Linked DNA regions of Homo sapiens. The protein of the gene in region 3 interacts with the protein of the main gene of each other region in a pairwise test. Each region holds a gene or a part of one and is shown on either strand. Other genes may lie near its edges.

Region 1 (7,030 bases), on a different chromosome or scaffold from region 3:
TGCCTCAGCCTCCCAAGTAGCTGGGAATACAGGCGTGCGCCACCAAGCCTGGCTAATTTTGCATTTTTAGTAAAGATGGGGTTTCTCCATGTTGGTTAGGCTGGTCTCGAACTCCCGACCTCAGGTGAGCCACCATGCCTGGCCTCAGATAGATAACTTTCTAAGAATTAAATGTCTTCCCATTTGCACAGGATTTCATACTTTTCAACTCTTTCCTGTTCTGCAAGGTAGACAGGAAGGAGTCTCCATGTGACAGATGAGGAACAGGAGGCCCTGAAGCAATGGGGGAGCGGTAAGGATGACATCCTGCCCTGCCCTGCCTCCCCCACCTCCCCTGTCCGCTCCCCACCACCATAAGGCAAAAGACACTGACAGTCATAGCTGCTCTCGCAGCTCTGGAGGCTGCACTGACACAACAAGAGTCCTCAGAACATCTTCCACCTCTGCTTTCCCCTTCAATTCACACTATAGTTGGTATGATTCTCAACAACTGTCAGAGGGTTAGTTTTATTACTCCCCAGACCCAAGCAGGCCCTGAAGCGGGGCTTGGAGGGTTCCCTGCTTGTTTATTATTTTTTAAAAAGAACAGAGATACGGTTTTGCTATGTTTCCCAGGCTGGTCTCAAACTCCTGAGCTCAAGAAATCCTCCCACCTTGGCCTCCCAAAGTGCTGGGATACAGGTGTGAGCCACCGCAGCCAGCCAGTCCTGCCTAATTTTTGAACAACCAAAAAGCTTTCAAATGCCATTATCAATGCTCCCCAATCTTGCCTCCTTCACTCCCTTAACCCCTGTCATTATTAAAGCTGCCTCCCCTGGCCCCACAAGCCCATCTCCTCACCCCTCTCCTCCCTACCCTTCAACACCATCCCCAGCAACACCAGCTCTACCAGCACCAGTGAATAAGAATCACAACCTGGATGGGCTCCAAGTCCAACTTCACCACATTCAGATATGGGATTCAGAAAAGTTTCACCGGAGCCCGACTCACATTCTATCATGTGGAAAGCGCTCTGCTGAGGAGCCCTGTTCCTCTAAGATACGCATGTGACAGGGTCTAGTCAGCATCCCACCTGTCCAAATAAGACTTTAAATGAGAGCACCATGGGCCTCTCTGTGTCCCCCTGAGCTTGCAGTCCATCCCCTTTACTCACCGAAGCCTCCGGGGTTTGATCGTGGAGTATAGAAGCTCTGAACGCCACATCTCTTACAGAAGGTATGCTGGGCTTTGTGAGTATTGAACGTGTAAGTCGTTATGTGCTCAGCTCCCTAGGTGAAAACAGACAAACGGTATTCTTTTTTACAAAGAGATTTATTTATTTAATTTATTTATTTATTTATTTATTGAGACAGAGTCTCCCACTGTCTCTCAGGCTGGAGTGCAGTGGCGCAATCTTGGCTCACTGCAACCTCCACCTGCATGGGTTCAAGAGATTTTCCTGCCTCAGCCTCCCAAGTAGCTGGGATTATAGGCGCGTGCCCCCATGCCCAGCTAATTTTTTGTATTTTTAGTACAGACAGGGTTTCACCATGTTGGCCAGGTTGGTCTCGAACTCCTGACCTCATGATTCACCCACCTTGGCCTCCCAAAGTGCTGGGATTACAGGTGTGAGCCACTGCGCCTGGCCCCAAAGACATTTATTTTTATGTCACTTAAAAAATACACCTTTGTAGCCGGGTGTGGTGGCAGGCGCCTGTAGTCCCAGCTACTCGGGAGGCTGAGGCAGGAGAATGGCATGAACCTGGAAGGCCGAGCTTGCAGTGAGCCGAGATCATGCCACGGCACTCCAGCCTGGGCAACAGAGCGAGACTCCGTCTCAAAAAAAAAAAAAAAAAAAACACCTTTGGCCAGGCATGGTGGCTCATGCCTGTAATCCCAACACTTTGAGGCCGAGGCAGGCGGATTGCTTGAGCCCAGGAGTTCAAGACCAACCTGGGCAACATGGCAAAACCCTGTTTCTACAAAAAAATATAAAAATTAGCCAGGTGCAGTGGCACACATCTGTAGTCCCAGCTACCTGGGAGGCTGAGGTAGGAGCATCAGTTGAGCCTGGGGAAGTAGAGGCTGCAGTGGGCTGAGATCGCACCATTAAAAAAAAAAATCTTGAAATAACTTAATGGCAGGAGCTCTTCTGTAGGGCTCTTTGTACTAAGAGGCCATTTCCTATCTCCAGAAGAGACTGGGACCTTCTTGAGGACAGAGACCCATCTACACTATCCAGAGACATGTCAGTCTGGAGCGTGACAGCTCACAGCTTCCCTTAGGTCAACGGCATACAGAATTCAGCCTTGAGCCTTCCCTGATACATCACATCAGGGAGGGAAAGTGCTTGCTTCCCAGGGCCTATGTGGAGAGACAGTTCACCCAAGGGACTGGCTCTCCATGTCCCCAAACAGAACGGCTCAAGGTCTTAAGAAAACTGATGGCTGTGCTTAATTTATCCACAAAGGACAAACCAGGAAAAAAATATTTGCCAGACGTCATAGACAGGCTAATTTCCTTAATGGATAATACAAACGGGAGACTGGACAAAGGACATGAACGGACAGTTCAGATAGAAAGAAAAATAAATCACTCTTTAGCCTATGAAATGCTCACCAAAGGAACTTCAATGAGATGTATTTCACTGTCAGGTGGGCAAAATCAAAGCCGTTAACATGGTATTGACAAGTATGTAGAGAAATATGTGCTCACATATATCAGTCACAGGAACAGGAATTGGTACAATTTAGCAACATCTACCAAAATTTTAAAGTGTACATATGCTTTAGCACACAATTCCATTTCTTGAAATTTATTATACAGATATATTCCAAATGTCTCAATGACATAGGTATATAGATACTATAGCACTGTTTATGAAGGCTAAAGATTGGAAAAATTGAAAATGTCCCTCAATAGAGGACCGGTTAGGCATTATGGACACTCATAAAATGAAATATTCTCCAACTTTTGAGAAGAATGAGACAGCTCTACAAAACTAACATGGAACAATTGCCAAAGTTACAAAGTAAAGCAAGGTATAGGCCAGGCGCAGTGGCTCACGCCTGTAATCCCAGCACTTTGGGAGGCCAAGGTGGGCAGATCACTTGAGGTCAGGAGTTCAAGACCAGCCTGGCCAACATGGTGAAACCCTGTCTGTACTAAAAATGTAAAAATTAGCCAGATGTGGTGGCGGGCACCTGTAGTCCCAGCTACTCAGGAGGCTGAAGCAGGAGAATCACTTGAGCCTGGGAGGCGGAGGTTACAGTGAGCCGAGATCACACCACTGCACTCCAGCCTGGGCAACAGAGTGAGACTGTCTCAAAAAAAAAGTTAAGCAAGGTATAAAACAACGTACGTGGTATGCTACCATTTCTTTTTTTTTTTTTAAGGCTATATACTGGTATGTGTGGTGTTTTTGTTTTGTTTTGTTTTGTTTTTTTGAGACAAGATCTCACTCTGTTATCCAGGCTGGAGTGCAGTGGTATGACGACAGCTTACTGCAGCCTTGACCTCCCAGGATCAAGTGATTCTCCCACCTCAGCCTCCCGAGTACCTGGGACTATAGGCATGCAACACCACACCTAGCCGATTTTTTATTTTTTGTAGACATGGGGGTCTCGCTATGTTGTCCAGGCTGGTGTTGAACTCCTGGGCTCAAGTGATCTGCCTGCCTTGGCCTTCCAAAGTGCTGGGACTACAGGCATGAGCTACTGTGCCTGGCCTGTATGTGCTTTTATATGCATATGTATCTTTGAAGAGGGATCCAAGAAACAGTGGCTTACCTTTAGGGAGAGAAATCAGACAGCTGAAGGGGAAGGGGTGGAGGTTTCTTATCCTTGTTAACCCTCTTTACGCTTCCCCAGCCATACCGTCCAGAATTGTGCTTCCTATAGAAATAGCTCCCTGAGGAGCCTTGCTCACTCCATAGCCACTGCAGCACAGAAAAGCAGCGAAGGACTGCCAAGTGGTCCCAAGCCATCCAGCATTATCTGGATGGAATTAAAGCCCCGCCCAACCCCACATTACCCATAATGTGCTAAAAGTCTTTTTTAAAAAATCTGTATTCTTTAACCTGGAGATTTTCTTTCTCTCTTTTTTTTTAACTGCTCCTTGTAGAGCAGGGTGTAGGAAGTGTGCCCAGAATAGCCAGAGAACTTATTTCTAAGAGAATTGATCCTAAAGAAGAAATTTCTAAATTGTCAAAAATGTATACCAAGGAGGTTCACCAGTGTTGTTGATAATCAGAAAAAAACGGGACTCAACTGCAATGATGCAGAGACAGTGATGGGGTAAGTAGACCAGGAAATCGGCTGTGGGGAAGAGGGAGACTGGGGCATGGGGACAGTAGGGAAAGATTTTTCACTGTGTATATACACATTTTCTTCTACCTTTCAAATTTTGTACCAAGTACAAAAAATTCCCCAAAATAATAAAATTAAAGTTACAAATAAGTATATAAGCTTTTCATTGGGAAATGAGATAAGCAGTTTATCAACAAAAAGAATGGTAAAATTCTACTTAATAAACATAAGACAATAGGTTTAGATGTATTTCTCAGAGTAGAAAATAATACACAAAGACAGACACCAAAATATTAACAGTGGTTACCTTTAGTTGACAGGATTTGGGTGATTTTATTGTTTTTTGATTCTCTGAATTTGAAAATGTTTCCACAATACCAAATAGGCCTCCAAAAAATAAAGGTAAAAAATAACACAACCTTTTATTTTTTATTTTCATTTTTTTTGAGATGGAGTTTCACTCGTCACCCAGGCTGGAGTGCAATGGTGTGATCTCGGCTCACTGCAACCTCCACCTCCCAGGTTCAAGTGATTCTCCTGCCTTGGCCTCCCAAGTAGCTGGGATTACAGGCATGCACTACAACGCCCAGCTAATTTTTGTATTTTTAGTAGAGATAGGGTTTCACCATGTTGGCCAGGCTGGTCCTCAACTCCTGACTTCAGGTGATCCATCCATCTTGGCCTCCCAAAGTGCTGGGATTACAGGCGTGAGCCACTGTGCCGGGCCCACCTTTTAAATGTCAACCTGAAACCAAAGCCCGTGAGAGGCCCTGCTATGCTCCAGGCCCCTCCCATGCTACAGACGGCATGCTAACAGTTGGGTGGGGGGTCCTGTAAATCTCACCAATGGGTTCTGCACTCCTTGACCCTGCTCTTAAGCACTGACCTTCAGGAGCTTGAAGCGAGAAGCTGGAACAATGAAGTGTCTATTCTGCTTCTTCTTGCAAATGCTGCAACTACAGAAAGACAGAGCAAATTCCAGATTGTGAGCAGCCACCTGCATCCTCTATGCCTGAGCGGCCCAGCCATGAGAGCCAGCCGACCCCACAGATGATGCCCCTTTCAGCACCATCCAGGGCCGAGGAGCTGGGGCAAAGGCCTGGATAGCAGTGCCTCTGGTTTGCAGGTACAGCAGAGCCCAGGGGGGTCCCAAGTCAGCAGTCGAGGTTCTGCAATGCTCAGAACACAGGACCAACAGACAGGTCTGTACTGCCCACCCCTCAGTTCTTTACAGTGAAGAGAAGCGCTGGACTTCAGAGACACTTAGGAAACAAATTTCAGACACTGCTACAACCTGATGTCTCTGAGACATCCACACCAAAAATGGACAAGGAAGTTTAGGTTTCCCTCTTTCTTCATCACCACGTCACAAGAAGTCCAGCTCCAAGTAAAACACGTCCCCAGAATTACCATCTCTGGAATTAAACTGAAGTCCCCTCTTTTCAGGCCACCTTTGAAAAAGTTCTAATTTAGCACAGAATCCTCTCACAAGTTATTCCACAGTGCTTCTTTTCCAATCTGGACTCTATTGTTAGTAGCCTGGTCAGTTCTCCATTTGAGTAATTCCATCGTATGTGCTTATTATTCATATATAATTCCGGTACCTAGGGGCAAAAAGGACTGGATGCTGTTAAATAATTAGCTGCATGCCAACTTTGGGTCCCAAAGCCAGAGCCTGTCGTCCCTGCTCCATCATAACGCCGGGGAAGGTGGTACAAATCAGGCCCTCCACAGCCAGCAGTGCCATCTGCCTCAACCGAAGAGCAGAGCGAGAGTGGAGGGCCTGGGGAGCCTCCAGGTGTATACACCCTTTACTAACATACCCTCCAACTCTCCCCAACTCTAGACTTCTATGAAGATTCTGCCCAAGGCTTTCCACTCAGTACCCAGCCAGGCACACCTGCAGCTAACCGCCCCCGGCTCCTCAGCAGTGTCAGTCTGAGGGTGATGCTGCCACAAGCCACAAGCCCTGAGGACCCTGCTCTGTGTCACCTGGGCCATGCTGTTGAAGCTCTGTGATGAGCCATATAAAAGGAACAAAAATAGAACAATGAACCTTTCTGTCCCCATCACCTGACTTCAACAGTTACCAGCCCAAGGCCAATGTTTCCTCTGTACCCCAACTCCCCAGATTATTTTGAAATATTGCATTTTAACTCTGAAATTCTTTTAAGCCAATTTAGGGAAAAAAAAATACTCACTTGCAGTCAAATATATGCAAGTCTGCTGAGGCCCAAACTTCAAAACGAACTGCTCCACAGTGGCAGCCTCCTGTGTGCTTCACCAGGCCCTGGTATTCACTAAATGAAACAAAAATCAGAAAGATAATAATTTCTGAATAGCTGCCTCCTGCTCTCTTTTTGTTGCTGAAAGAAAGACAGAAGATTAGACAAAAGTCTTTTCTACATGACAACCAGATGCATTTCTGCTTTTAAGGAGGCACTGTCAATTTCCTAAGTGAAGAATGGTTTCAGCACCTTCTTTGTCCATGAGCTCTCTTTTCACCAATTTCTTAAATTATATTAAGTTGCAAAATAAAACATTCCAAACATTTCGAAAATGTGAGGGATCCTAACCCACCACCAGACATTTTTATTTATATGTCAAATACTAAATTTTTTTTTTTTTTTTTGAGATGGAGTCTCAGTCTATTGCCCAGGCTGGAGTACGGTGGCACGATCTTGGCTCACTGCAACCTCTGCCACCTGGGTTGAAGCAATTCTCCAGCCTTAGCCTCCCAAGTA
Region 2 (7,030 bases), on a different chromosome or scaffold from region 3:
GCAATGAAGCATGTTTAAAGTTTTAGGATATTAAAATTGAAATCACTGATATTTCTTTTTTTAAATCGACATGATTAACCTATAAGAACTCGTGCATATTTAATATATAAATTTTGATGAATTTAAAGGTAAGTATATCCCTGTGAAACCATCACCATAAACATAAACATAAACATCATCTCTAAAAGTTTCTTCCTTTCCTGTTTGTGATAAGAACATTTAACATGAGCTCTACTCTCTTAACAAATTTTTAAATATACAATACAGTATTGTTAACTATATGCACTATGCTGTACAGCAGCTCTCTAGCAGTTACTCATCCTGTATAACTGAAACTATATACCCTTTGATCAACACCTTCCAGATTCTCCCACCACCCCAGTCTCTGGCAACCACCATTCTACTCTCTGCTTCTATGAGTCTGACTATTTTAAATTTCTGACACAAGTGGGCTTGTGTAGGATTTGTTCTGGCGCCGATTTTCTCTCTTTTTTTTTTTTTTTTAGACAGGGTATCATGGAGTGCAGTGGTGCAATTTCAGGTCACTGCAGCCTCCACCTCCCAGGTTCAAGCGGTTCTCCCTGCCTCAGCCATCAGAGTAGCTGGGATTATAGGCGTGCACCACCACACCCAGCTTTTTTTTTTTTTTTTTTTTGAGACAGTCTCACTGTCACCCAGGCTGGAGTGCAGTGGCACAATCTCAGCTCACTGCAGCCTCCGGCTCCTGGGTTCAAGAGATTCTCCTGCCTCAGTCTCCCGAGTAGCTGGGATTATAGGTACTTGCCCCCATGCCAGGCTAATTTTTTTTTTTATTTAGTAGAGGCGGAGTTTCACCATGTTGCCCAGGCTGGTCTCAAACTCCTGGCCTCAAGTGATCCGTCTACCTCGGCCTCCCAAACTGCTGGGATTACAGGCATGAGCCACTGCACCCAGCCCTAATTTTCATATTTTTTAGCAGAGATGGGGTTTCACCATGTCACTCAGGCTGATCCCAAACTCCTGAGTTCAAACGATCCAACCTCCTCAGCCATCCTCTTCGACCTCCCAAAGTGCTGGGATTATAGGTGTGAGCCACTGGGCCCAGCTGGCATTGATATTTTTAAAGAAACTTAGAAATCAAAATTTTGTACAAAGACACTTGTACTGGGATAATTTACTATGAAAAAAAAAACAAACAAAACCTAAAGAGGGTATTCCCGAAACATGAATAATAAATTTTGTTAGTGCAACAGACAAGCAACTAGTCAGTAAGTGTAACTTTTAAAGATTTTCAAACATGTTTTATAAATTTAAATGCCTGATTGTCCTTACATACACAAACTGAAATAATTATTAAACTAGGCAATAGCTTTAAAATGTTACAAAAAATATAAAGAAATAGATGATGACATCCATGTCTTTCAGCTACTATGTTCTAGTTATTCAAGAGACTGAGGCAAGAAGATCATTTGAACCCAGGAGTTAAAGGCAGCAGTGAGCTATCCTCACACCACTGCACTCCCAACTGGGCAACAGAGCGAGACACTATCTTAAAAAACAAACAAACAAACAAACAAACAAAACTAATACTGTGAAATTTTTTAAATATTTAACTCATTTAAATTTTTTTTTTTTTTTTTTTGAGACGGAGTCTCGCTCTGTAGCCCAGGCTGGAGTGCAGCGGTGCGATATCGGCTCACTGCAACCTCCGCCTCCCAGGTTCACGCCATTCTCCTGCCTCAGCCTCCCGAGCAGCTGGGACTACAGGCACCCACCACCACGCCCGGCTGATTTTTTGTATTTTTAGTAGAGACAGGATTTCGCTGTGTTAGCCAGGATGGTCTCGACCTCCTGACCTCGTGATCCGCCCGCCTCGACTTCCCAAAGTGCTGGGATTACAGGCGTGAGCCACCGCGCCCGGCCTAACTCATTTAAAATTTTTAATAATAAACTGACTAGATATTAAGGTAAATAATATTTTTTACTAAAAATAAAAGATTTCTGAAAACAAAAACATTTAGTAAGAAGAGGTATTCTTTTACATTTTTGCAAGTTGCTTTAACTCTGGCTTCAGAGAAGACAATATGGATTCTCATACCTGCTCCTGTATCCAATCTGTTGTACTGTGTGGTTTTTTTGGTTGAAGTCTATGAATCAAATCCTTTTTCAGAGAGACATGCAGTTGGAAAAAGGTGGGGTGTCTCAGCAGCCTTTTCAGATCACTGTGGACATTCTTCCTTGATACAACACCAAAACCAGGCAAGGGGGAGTCTCTTAAAAAAAAAAAGTTGTGGCCGGGAGTGGTGGCTCAGGCCTGTAATCCCAGCACTTTAGGAGATCAATGCGGGCGGATCACGAGGTCAGGAGTTCGAGACCAGCCTGACCAACACGTGAAACCCAATCTCTACTAAAAATACAAAAATTAGCCAGGCATGGTGGCAGGCACCTGTAATCCCAGCTACTCAGGAGGCTGAGGTAGGAGAATCACTTCAACCTGGGAGGCAGAGGTTGCAGTGAGCTGAGATCGCGCCACTGCACTCCAGCCTGGGAGACAGAGCAAGACTCCATCTCAAAAAAAAAAAAAAAAAAAAAAAAGTTATAATGTAGAATCTATAACTCTTATCAGTGAACTTTTCATATCACTACATTAAAATCCATTGGTCTATCTTTTGAATGAATCTTTTACCCATGCACTATGACTTTGTAACGTGGTGCAATGGTGAGCTGGAAAATATTAGTTCACAAAATTATGTGGATCTTCCAAATGCTGACACATTTAATTATATAATATCAAATACTCATTCATTATATTGTCACCAATCTCATCAAAGAAGTCGTTAACTATTGAGAAACTGTCAAGCTCACTGTAGCAGATAAATTTTTTCAAAATTTTGATTTTTGCTTGAAAGCACAAATATTATCATTGGTCATAAATTGTCAGTTATTTCCTCTCATTTATTTTCCAGAAAACGTCCACCAAATACCCAAGTCTCAATAACTGCAGATTGTCTGCTACCCACTTTTTCAAGCAAAAATGGCATTTCACAATAAAAGCAGCTAGTTCGCTTTGCAACTCAAACTACACAATTGCTGTTTCTCAAAACAGGCACTGTACCTCTTTGTGCAGCAAAAGCAATTCATGTACTTCCCATTTCCTCATGAAAAGACAAAAGGCCAATTTTTTTTTTTAATTTTTACTGCTTCATCAGGGTCTGTTTAAGTGAAAGCAGCCCTTTTTGTTTTTTTAAAACTGCAAGTGGAGAGGTAGCGAATAATATAATGACTATCAGTGACACTTGGAGTCCCTGCCTCAATTTACGTTAAAGTGCCCAGCAGTTTTCCCTATTACTGCTTTTGGACCATCAGTACAAGTGTCAACACAGTGAAAACAGAAATGGCATCTTAGTATCATTATAAAAATAGTCTCCCTCTGCCTCCTGGGTTTGAGCGATTCTCCTGCCTCAGCCTCCCACGTAGCTGGGATTACAGGCACGTGCCACCATGACCAGCTAATTTTTTTTTTGTTATATTTAGTAGCAACGGGGTTTTGTCATGTTGGTCAGGCTGGTCTCGAACTCCAGACCTCAGGTGATCCAACCACCTCGGCCTCCCAAAGTGTTGGGATTACAGGAGTGAGCCACCATGCCCAGCCAAAATCTGACTTTTGACAGCTGAAATATTACCTAGGATGCAGTGGACACTGAATAATTACTGAATAAGTGAAAACAAATACAAAAACAAAAAGCAGCAAGAACTCCAAAAGAGGGGACAAATGATATGGAAGTTCTGAGAAAGCAGTCACATTAGAGATGATCAAGGAAGGTTCAAAATAAGAGGGTGCTTTGAATATTCCCTCAAAGTTTCTTTTCAGCAATTTATTCTATATTATAAAGATCCTCACCATTCTTATCCATCATTCAAAGGAAATTCTGCTTTCCTGAAACAACAAATATTGGTTCAAATTCTGAATTGTGTTCAGAAGAATTATCATCATTAAGTACCATTTAACTAAAGTGCTCTAGAAAATAATCTACATGCTGTTCCAGGAGAACTTCCCTATCTCATATTCTGACATTTGTTGTGTGTTTTCTTGAAAAAAAAAAAAAAAAAAAAAAAAAAAGACATGAATATTAAGAAAAAGGAAGAAACTCAGTGCCCAATGCAGCAGTGTTGAGCGGCAGAACCTTTAAGAGATGATCAGTGGATTAATGCTGTTATCGCAGGGACAGGTTAGTTATCAGGAATGCGTTCCAGACAAAAGGATGATTTTGGCCCCCTTCCTCTCTCGTCCACACATTCTCTTGCCTTCTCACCTTCCACCATGGGATGACAGGCCAAGAAAGTCCTTGCTAGATGCTAGTACCTTAATATTGGACTTCCATCCTCTGGAACTGTGAGAAATAAATTTTTCTTTGTAAATTACCTATATGTGGTGTTCTGTTATAGAACACAAACACAACACAAAATAGACTAAGATAGAGAGCATTTGGGGTGGCCTTTGACAGATGAGTAGAATCTGAACATGAGAACGTTTTTCTTTTTTTGAGACGAAGTTTCGCTCTTGTTGCCCAGGCTGGAGTGCAATGGTGCAATCTCGGCTCACTGCAACCTCTGCCTCCCAGGTTCAAGTGGTTCTCCTGCCTCAGCCTCCCAAGTAGCTGGGATTACAGGCATACGCCACCACGCCCGGCTAATTTTTTGTATTTAGTAGAGATGGGGTTTCACCATGTTGGTCAGGCTGGTCTGGAACTCCTAACCTCAGGTGATCCACCCGCCTCAGCCTCCCAAAGTGCTGGGATTACAGGTGTGAGCCACTGCGCCTGGCTGAACATGAGAACTTTTATATACCACAAAATATTCAAGAAGCACAACAAATGTTTATTAACACAAAGGCAATGACAGGCTGTCATTTTGAAAATTAAGAATTATGGGCCAGGCGCGATGGCTCATGCCTGTAATCCCAGCACTTTGGGAGGCCGAGGCAGGTGGATCACGAGGTCAGGAGTTCAAGACCAGCCTGGCCAATATGGTGAAATCCTGTCTCTACTAAAGATACAAAAAACTAGCCAGGCGTGATGGCGTGTGCCTGTAATCCCAGCTACTCAGGAGGCTAAGACAGGACAATTGCTTGAACCCGGGAGGTGGAGGCTGCAGTGAGCCGAGATCGCGCCACTGAACTCCAGACTGGGCAACAGAGTGAGACTCCGTCTCAAAATATACACACACACACACACACACACACACACACACACACACAAATATATCCCAGATTTTAGAAATTAAAGACAGTTAAAGAGGAAAAAAGCTTTGTGAGAGAAGTCTCTTCCTGTATACCCAGAGTTTTTTCCCCCTTTTCATTTTATTCCATCTAGACTAGAAGTCCTGCATTGTTAGAATATAAGAAATCAAGAAAAAGACTAAAGTTAAAGCTATGGAATAGACCTATTAACCAGAATAAAGTAATTGGAATGGGATAAAGGTAGCCTATTGTGTAGGAATTTCCTCTCTAACCCACTGTAGTCTATTAAAACAAAGAACAAAATACCACTGTCCATGTTTTTAAAGCAGTTCAGCAGCAATAGCTCCAAGACACGTACAGCACTGGTGTGCCAAAATCAGCTGTGAGGTGTGTCCAAGGTAATTTGTTACAGCAACAGGCAAAGCACAAAGGTTTGGGAATTAATTCTTTTTTAAATATCAAGGTTATACCTCTAATGATCTCACTTCCATCAATGAACATCCTGATAGGTTTTCAGGAACCACACATATGAATTCTTCTGTATGTGTTCATGATTGGGGGGCAGGGGGTCTAAGAAGAGTGGGGTTCCATGTACTTCTACTCTTCATCTTCATCTTAATCTGAAGCAGACTCCTAAGTCAAGAGGGCAAAACAGCCAGAAAAGTTAAGGAGCAAGAACACAGCTATGCCTTATTTCCCTCTTGGGAATCTATAACAGAAATTCAGCAAACTTGCCCTATGGAAATAAATCATAGCATTCTACCAGAACCTTCCCTCAGGGCCAACGCCAATCACTATGGTTGATGATGAGAATGCAGTGAGGATGCTGGAGAATAAGGCCAGGTGTGAGGTATGAAGAAAGGCAGAGGATACTTTCAACAGGCTGAGGGGAAGGCATGCAGGATTTTCTAGATTATTCAGGTATCACTCATTACCAGTTTCTGTTGAAGACAGCATCTTTGTCACTGTTAAGCTTCTTCTTCCAACCTACCAAGCACAGTGACAACTCTTAAGTTTTAGGCAATTTCTCACTTAGATAAATGTGAATGCTATAAAAAAGTTACACTATTTTGACAATATATAAAAATTATAACAATGAAACACTAATGTTGGTTGTTTTAGGACTATAACTCATTACTAATATCTCCCTTTAATTATATAAATAAAACACCTTACCAGTTTCGAAGCATTTTCACACACACTATGTGACTGAATCTTGACAATAAACCTGGAATGTCAATAAAGCTGGTATTCACCCCCTTTTACAGCTAACTAAACCCACGTTTAGAGACATTGTAATCCACAGGAGATTCACAGACACTTTACCAGATGCCCACCACTGTGTGAAGAAGCCAAAAATCTGCCTAAAACAAAGTCCTTACCAGTAAGCATCTCCAAATCCAACAGGGAGAGCCCACGTCAACAACAACCACCACATAAACTACATAAGCCAGCATTAACCTGTGGAAGCGCCCTGGAAGCAGGTCCACGTGTGACTGTGCCTAAGTAATCACTGACCTATTTTGGCCAAAAGAAAAGTGTCAGGCCAGTCTAGGAGCAGGGAAAGAAGCCAAGAAGCCAGAGCTTCCACCTCCTTGGCTGCCACTCTACTACTCTGTTCTCTGCTGTCTTCCCTTTAACACTTTTTTTTGAGACAAGGTCCCACTCTGTCTCCCAGGCTGGAATGCAGTGACACTATAAAGGCTCACAACCTCGTCAGGTGATCCTCCCACCTCGGCCCCTCAAGTAGCTGGGACTACAGGCACACACCACCATGCCCAGCCAATTTTTTTTTTTTTTTGGAAGAGGCAG
Region 3 (7,030 bases):
TCTAGTTCTTGTCTATCTACCAAGAGAAGCACACATATTAACATCAATAGAAATATGCCTCACGTGGCCAGGTGCGGTGGTTCATGCCTGTAATCCCAGCACTTTGAGAGGCCGAGGTGGGTAGATTATGAGGTCAGGAGTTCAAGACCTGCCTGGCCAAGGTGAAACCCCATCTCTAATAAAAAAATACAAAAAATCAGCCGAGTGCGGCGGCAGGCGCCTGTAATCCCAGCTACTCGGGAGGCTGAGGCAGGAGAATCGCTTGAACCCGGCGGGAAGGCGGTGGTTGCAGCGAGCCAATATCGCACCACTGCACTCCAGCCTGGGCGACAGAGTAAGACTCCATCTCAAAAAAAAAAAAAGAAATATGCCTCATGTTATATGCAAAGTACAGGCATTAAAACTGTATATAAAACAATTTGTAAGTCAAATAATATTTTAAATGCAACTGGAGACTTCTCATTTAAAGGTTATATTCATTGAATTATAAGGTAAAGACGTTATTACAATGACAATTTTTTTTTTTTTTTTTGAGGTGGAGTCTCGCTCTGTCGCCCAGGCTGGAGTTCAGTGGCGGCAATCTCGGCTCACTGCAAGCTCTGCCTCCTGGGTGCATGCCATTCTCCTGCCTCAGCCTCCCCAGTAGCTGGGACTACAGGTGCCCACCACCATGCCCGGCTAATTTTTTGTATTTTTACTAGAGACGGGGTTTCACCGTGTTAGCCAGGTAGATCTCCTGACCTCGTGATCCGCCCACTTCAGCCTCCCAAAGTGCTGGGATTACAGGCGTGAGCCACTGCGCCCAGCCAACAACAACAAAATTTAACCTATAATTTAGTACATCTAACTTATCCACCTGGAAATTTACATTAAAATTTTCTGGGGTTTTGTTTTTTTTTTTTTTTTTTTTTTTTTTGAGACAGAGTCTTGCTCTGTCACCCAGGCTGGAGTGCAGCGGCGTGATCTCAGCTCACTGCAACTTCCACCTCCCAGGCTCAAGCAATCTTCCTACCTCAGCCTCCAAGTAGCTGCGACTACAGGCGTGTGCCACCATGCCCGGTTCTTTTTTTTTTCGAGACAGAATTTCACTCTTGTCACCCAGGCTGGAGTGCAATGGCACGATCTCGGCTCACTACAACCTCCATCTCCTAGGTTCAATCAACTCTCCTGCCTCAGCCTCCTGAGTAGCTGGGATCACAAGCATGCGCCATCACACCCAGCTAATTTTTGTATTTTTAGTAGAGAGGGGGTTTCACCATGTTGGCCAGGCTGGTCTTGAACTCCTGACCTCAAATGATCCGCCCGCCTCAGCCTCCCAAAGTGCTGGGATTACAGGCTTGAGCCACTGCACCCAGCCTTTGTATTTTTTTGGAAACGGGGTTTCACCATGTTACCCAGGCTGGTCTCAAACACCTGAGCTCAAGCAATCTGTCCACCTTGGCCTCTCCAAGTGCTAGAATTACAGGCATGAGCCACGGCACCCAGCCTACATTAAGATTTTTTTATCAAATAATTTAGGTTTACCCATAAAGTATTTCAATTCCTGGCACAAAGAGATCATAAATTAAAAATCTACGTTTTTTTTTTAAACATTATGTTAAGATAATAACCACTGTCCAAAGGAAAGATGTTGATGCTAGAAGAACAAAGACCAAAACCATTCTACTAATGAGTCTAAAGAAGTGTGGTGTTTCTCTTAATCCCAAGTCAACAACCGTTAACAATCAGAGCTAAGTTCCATTTTCATCACACTAGATACTTGACTTAGACACTTAACATGTGGTTCCCCTCAACGGAATGTGAGTTCTCTAAGGACAGACACTTTTTGTCTGTTTTGGTCACTGTTTGAATCACACCCAAAACCTGGACCAGGGCCTGTCACATTCATAAATATTAAAAGTCTTACCACAGACTGAATGGCTTAAACAACAGACATTTATTTTTACACAGTTCTGGTGGCTGGAGGTCCAAGATCAAGGTGTCGAGAGGGCTGATTTCTTCTGAGGTCTCGCTCCTTGGCCTGTAGATGGTCATCTTCTCCCTGTGTCTTCACATGGTCTCTACTCTGAGCATGGCCATGTCCTAATTTCCTCTTCCTATAAGGATACCAGTCATATACCCTCATTTTACCTTAATTACCTCTTTAAAGATCCTATCTCCAAATTCAGTCACATTCTGGGTATTGGGGGTTAGGACCATGCTATGATCTGAATATCTGTGCCCCTCCGAAATTCCTATGCTGAAATCTAATCCCCAACTTGCTAGTATAAGATGGGGCCTTTGGGAAGTGACTAGGTCATGATGGTGCAGCCCTCGTGAATGGGATTAGTGCCCTTATAAAAGGGGCCCAGAGAGCTTGTTTATGCCTTCTGCCTTCCACCTTCCACCACAGGAGAACAAAGCAAGAGGCACCATCTATGAAGACGAGAGCAGCCCCCGCAAAACACCCAATCTGCTGGTACCTTAATCTTGGACTTTCCAGCCTCCAGAACTGTAAGCAATACATTTCTGTTGTTTATAAACTACCCAGCCTAAGGCATTTTGTTATAGCAACTGGAACAGACAGACTTCAACATACAAATGTGAAAGGAACAAAATTCAGCCATTCAGGAAGGGAAGTTGATACAACTTTATAATTCTTTAATAATTCACTATTAAAGTTTCCCTATCTCATGAAATACAGAACATGTGTTTCAATGAATGATGTTAATACTCAAAGTACTGGTTTTGAACCCTTTATAAAGATATAAATAATCCATGAATTATATTGCATGCTACCTGTCAACAGAGATTCCTGTTCCACTCGCAGTTCACGAAACAGAAGAATCAAATCAACAGCAACACCAATCGTATCCAAGTTCCTGGGTTTTTTAAAAAAGACAAAATTAGACATGTTCATTCATTCATATATTGTCTATGGCTGTTTTTGCACTACAATGGGAGAGCTGAGAAATCTGACAGAGATTACAAAGCCTAAATTATTTATTATCTGGCTCTTTACAGGAAAAATATAGCAACCCTAGCAGTAGAGGTTATATTTACATGCAGAGCTAACTGCTTCCAACAGCTTTCTTTGAGTACTTCCTGAAGTTTCCCATGACTCAGATTCTTTGCTTTATTGTATTTTACCCCATTCCATGCATTCTTGGCAAAAACAGTCCCAGTCCACACAAAGTGCAAAAGATGTAAAAAGATCTAGGCTTTAATAGCATCACACCTTTTGATGAACTCTTTAACGACTTAAAGTAAAACATCAGAAAAATATGTACTAGTTGCAATCTGAATCTTGACTGGCTCAGAAATACTGGCCTTAGTTAAGCTTGGCCACAAAGTCTTTACTAGAATCTTTGTAGTATTTCTAACTAGAAAATTCTTTTCTGAAAATTGCTGCCCTAAATGGTTGAAATTTTCCTTTAAAAATCAACAGTGAATAATAATACAATCCTAGAAGGGAAGAGGCAGAAAAATTAACACCCTTAAATGTTCATTTTCATTTCCGCCCAACCATAAGTTGCATGCAATAAAAAGATATCACAAACAGCACAGCCCTTGCTTTGCTGGCCCTACCAAAAGACCACCGATAACTTACTTGTCATAGTATTTATTTTTGTAATGTTAGAATTTTTATAGTTTGCATATATTACTCAAAAAAGAAAATAAAAATTGACTGCTTTGAAAGAAAGTATTAACATAAACTTGTGTTGTACATTCATTCCTGAGGCAGAGGCAGAAACATTTAATGTTTACTGAGCACACAATGTGCATTAGGCATTTACATAAGTAATCTCATTTACACCCCATAACCAGCCTGTTTGGAAGACATTGCTTACCTAGTTTTACAGAGGACAAAACTGATACTCAGGAAGACCAAGTCACCTGTCCAGGGTCAAGATGGAGCAGTCATCCACAACAAGACCAGTGTGTAAGGCTCAGGACAGCAAGGGTAGACTGCATTTTTTTTTTTGAGACGGAGTCTCACTCTGTTGCCCAGGCTGAAGTGCAGTAGCCCAATCTTGGCTCACTGCAACCTCCGCTTTCCCCGTTCAAGTGATTCTCCTGCCTCAGCCTCCAGAGTAGCTGGGACTACAGGTGTGTGCCACCACACCCAGCTAATTTTTTATTTTTAGTAGAGACAGGGTTTCACCATGCTGGCCAGGCTGGTCTCGAACTCCTGACCTCATGATTCACCCGCCTCGGCCTCCCAAAGTGTTGGGATTACAGGCGTGAGCCACCGCGCCTGGCCCAGACTGCTTTTGAGCTTAAGCTCAGAACAGTAAGGGCAGACTGCTTGTTAAGCTTAAGCTTTAGAGTCAGATGTCTGGATATGGAGAGAATGTTCCCAGCCTCTCTCACTTAACAAGTGACTCTCAGACAAGTTATTTAACCTCTCCAAGTTACAGTTTCATCTTTTGTAAAAATGAAAAAATTTCTTGAGTTTGTTCTAAGAATTAAAGAAGATACTACAAGCAAAACCCTTGGGACAAAGCCCAATGCCGAAGGCAGGCTCAACGAATGCTCACTCCCTTCCCCACCAAGATTAGCCAAGCACAAAGGTGTATCTGCCAGCCACAGTCAAAAGTTAGTTCTACGGCTCTCCTTTCCTTCCCCATCACACTAGAGCACCTTGTGACTGGAAAAGGACAAAAGAAACTAGCCTTCTGGCCAGATGCTTCTAGCATATAACTAGTTATGTTTTAGAATGTAGACTATTATTATCAAGATTATTGTTGTTTCTATCCATTTATCCTCAAATGGATGGCAGGTTTGGTTTAGTATTGAAGTTACACGACTCACTTTTTACCCTCTCTCCTTTGATCTTAAAAATCTCATTAATCATATCAAAGCCTCGGGTATATGTGTCTAACCGAAGGGAGTCCCTCAAGTGGCTTCTGGACCAGCCCAAGCTTACCCGTCACAGTGGTGACAGGGAAGCCTGGAGGCTCTGTCTACATCCAAGTCCAGGAAGGAAAGTGAGCATCCTGTTTGTGGCTTCTGACTTCAAGTAAAAATTTTTAATAAAAAGCAGGTTCCACAAAATCAAAGAAGAAAGATGCTGTGTTCTGGGAGGAGACGGTAACACGTAAAAGCAAAGAAGAGCACTGGACAGCTCGCCTGCTCATGTTTTAACTACTTTTAAAAATGTGCGCATCATAAAATAGGTGGAAGCAGAGCTTGGAACTTTACATGATCTTTAGGAAAGACAGGTCATCTTGTAAATTTACAAAATATGCTTCTTGTCCAAACACAAGAGTAACAAATTAAAACATTAAAAGTAATTAAAACATTTACAACCTGAGGTCAAGAACTGCATATAAACTTAGGCAGGTAAAATCTAGGAACAAAGACTCAAAATCAGCTTCAAAACACTATGAAGAACCAAATACCTCAAAACATGTGATAAAAACAAACAAGAAATCTAACCCCTAATGTTAAACACACTCCATTATTTTATACACTAGTCAGAGAGACTCCAATGGCAAGGCCTGTAGAGGGCCTCTCCCAGCAGATGTAAAGGGCAATCCTGCAATAACAGTGGGTGATACTATCATGCCAGAACAACTTTTTTTTTTTTTTTTTCCCTGAGACAGGGTCTCACAATGTGGCCCAGCCTGCAGCAATGGCATCATCTCAGATTACTGCAACCTCTGCCTCTCCCTGGCCCAAGCAATCCTCCCACCTCAGTCTCCTGAGCAGTTGGGACTACAGGTGTGCGCCACCATGTCCAGCTAATTTTTTGTATTTTTTTTGTAGAGACAGGGTCTCACCATGTTGCCCAGGCCGGTCTTGAACTCCTGGACTCAAGCAATCCTCCTGCCTCAGCCTCCCAAAATGCTGGGATTACAGGCATGAGCCACCTTACCCAGCCCAAAACAACTTCTAACAGATAAACCAAATGACAGAACCAGCATGCACATATACAAAGAAACAGAATCCAAGGTACGTGTGTAACTACCTGATTGAATTCTGGTTCACAGAACACTCTATGCAAGCATTGCGAAGACACCTGAAGCATTCTGTTATTAACTGCAGACTGGAAGCCAGGTTTTCCACTTGGGATGGATCTCTGCAGGCAAGCTCAACAGCATGAGAAGATTTCTTTAGGATATCCAGAACTCTTTGGAAGATAGTCCTGGGTGCTGTTTCTCTGAAAAAGGATAAAATTATCACGAATCAGAAAAAAAAGATTATGATTTCCAAATGTCCTATTCAGAAAACTGCTTTTATCTACTATTGTGGGGAGGTACGCTACGTTTATCTGCTTTAGCTCCTTAATTTACAACACCAAATAAAAGATCTACACATATTGAGCACTTACTATGCACCAGACACTGTTCTTGTCACTTCTCATGTATTATCTCAGTCTCTGCAACAGCCTTATGAGGCCAACACTGTCCTCTCCATTTACAGATAAGGTAAGTGAAGTAGAGATGGTAAGTAACTTGCACAAATCACTCAGCCAGTAACTGGCAGAGACACAAGGCCAAGTGAAGCACTCTGGCCTGAGCACTTCCACTACCCATGACAACCCAAATCCCAGTTCCAGTGACTGCTCATGCTTATGGATCTACCCTGAATCAGAACAGAGTATCTTTATTTAATGTTCTAGACAGAGAATATATTCTGGTCCTCTGTCACCCAATATGTAGCTAAGTTCAGTTATAAGAAACAATATTCCTGTAGGACAAGGATACTATCTACTCTGTAGACACAGTGAGGCTGACAACACACACACCAAACTTCTACAGTCAACTACATAGATGGGAGAGAAAGGAGAGGGGGAGAATGTAAAGTGTGCCTGTTCTTCCACCAAGAATGTATGCCCAGGGAGAAAGATGAACCTGTGGTTGTACCCTCTGGGCATCTCAGTCTCTGCGTGCCTCTCATGCCAGGAGTACTGCCTGCACTGGCTATCATTCCAGAGCTCTAAAGATAAGAATTTTTTGTGCAACATTGCACCTAAATGCAAGCCAACTTCCTCATTCCATAAATCCCCTAAAGAAACAGCAAATCTCTTTTAACGTTAGAAGGA

Evidence for each region. Proteins that work in one complex are often made in the same cells at the same time.
Region 1: the proteins of ATXN10 (region 3) and CENPV interact in binary tests that used the Homo sapiens proteins (3 or more experiments, as listed by UniProt).
Region 2: the proteins of ATXN10 (region 3) and DIP2A interact in binary tests that used the Homo sapiens proteins (3 or more experiments, as listed by UniProt).

The regions. Positions count from the first base shown.
Region 1 is NC_000017.11:16,343,444-16,350,473, forward strand, and holds part of CENPV (centromere protein V), read right to left. Parts: intron 6,587-7,030; coding exon 6,488-6,586; intron 5,243-6,487; coding exon 5,173-5,242; intron 1,269-5,172; coding exon 1,154-1,268; intron 1-1,153. UniProt on the Homo sapiens protein: Required for distribution of pericentromeric heterochromatin in interphase nuclei and for centromere formation and organization, chromosome alignment and cytokinesis.
Region 2 is NC_000021.9:46,461,887-46,468,916, reverse strand, and holds part of DIP2A (disco-interacting protein 2 homolog A), read right to left. Parts: intron 6,447-7,030; exon of another isoform or gene 6,395-6,446; intron 6,206-6,394; exon of another isoform or gene 6,154-6,205; intron 5,852-6,153; exon of another isoform or gene 5,689-5,851; intron 1-5,688. UniProt on the Homo sapiens protein: Catalyzes the de novo synthesis of acetyl-CoA in vitro. Promotes acetylation of CTTN, possibly by providing the acetyl donor, ensuring correct dendritic spine morphology and synaptic transmission.
Region 3 is NC_000022.11:45,688,827-45,695,856, reverse strand, and holds part of ATXN10 (ataxin-10), read right to left. Parts: intron 6,146-7,030; coding exon 5,954-6,145; intron 2,862-5,953; coding exon 2,779-2,861; intron 1-2,778. UniProt on the Homo sapiens protein: May play a role in the regulation of cytokinesis. May play a role in signaling by stimulating protein glycosylation. Induces neuritogenesis by activating the Ras-MAP kinase pathway and is necessary for the survival of cerebellar neurons.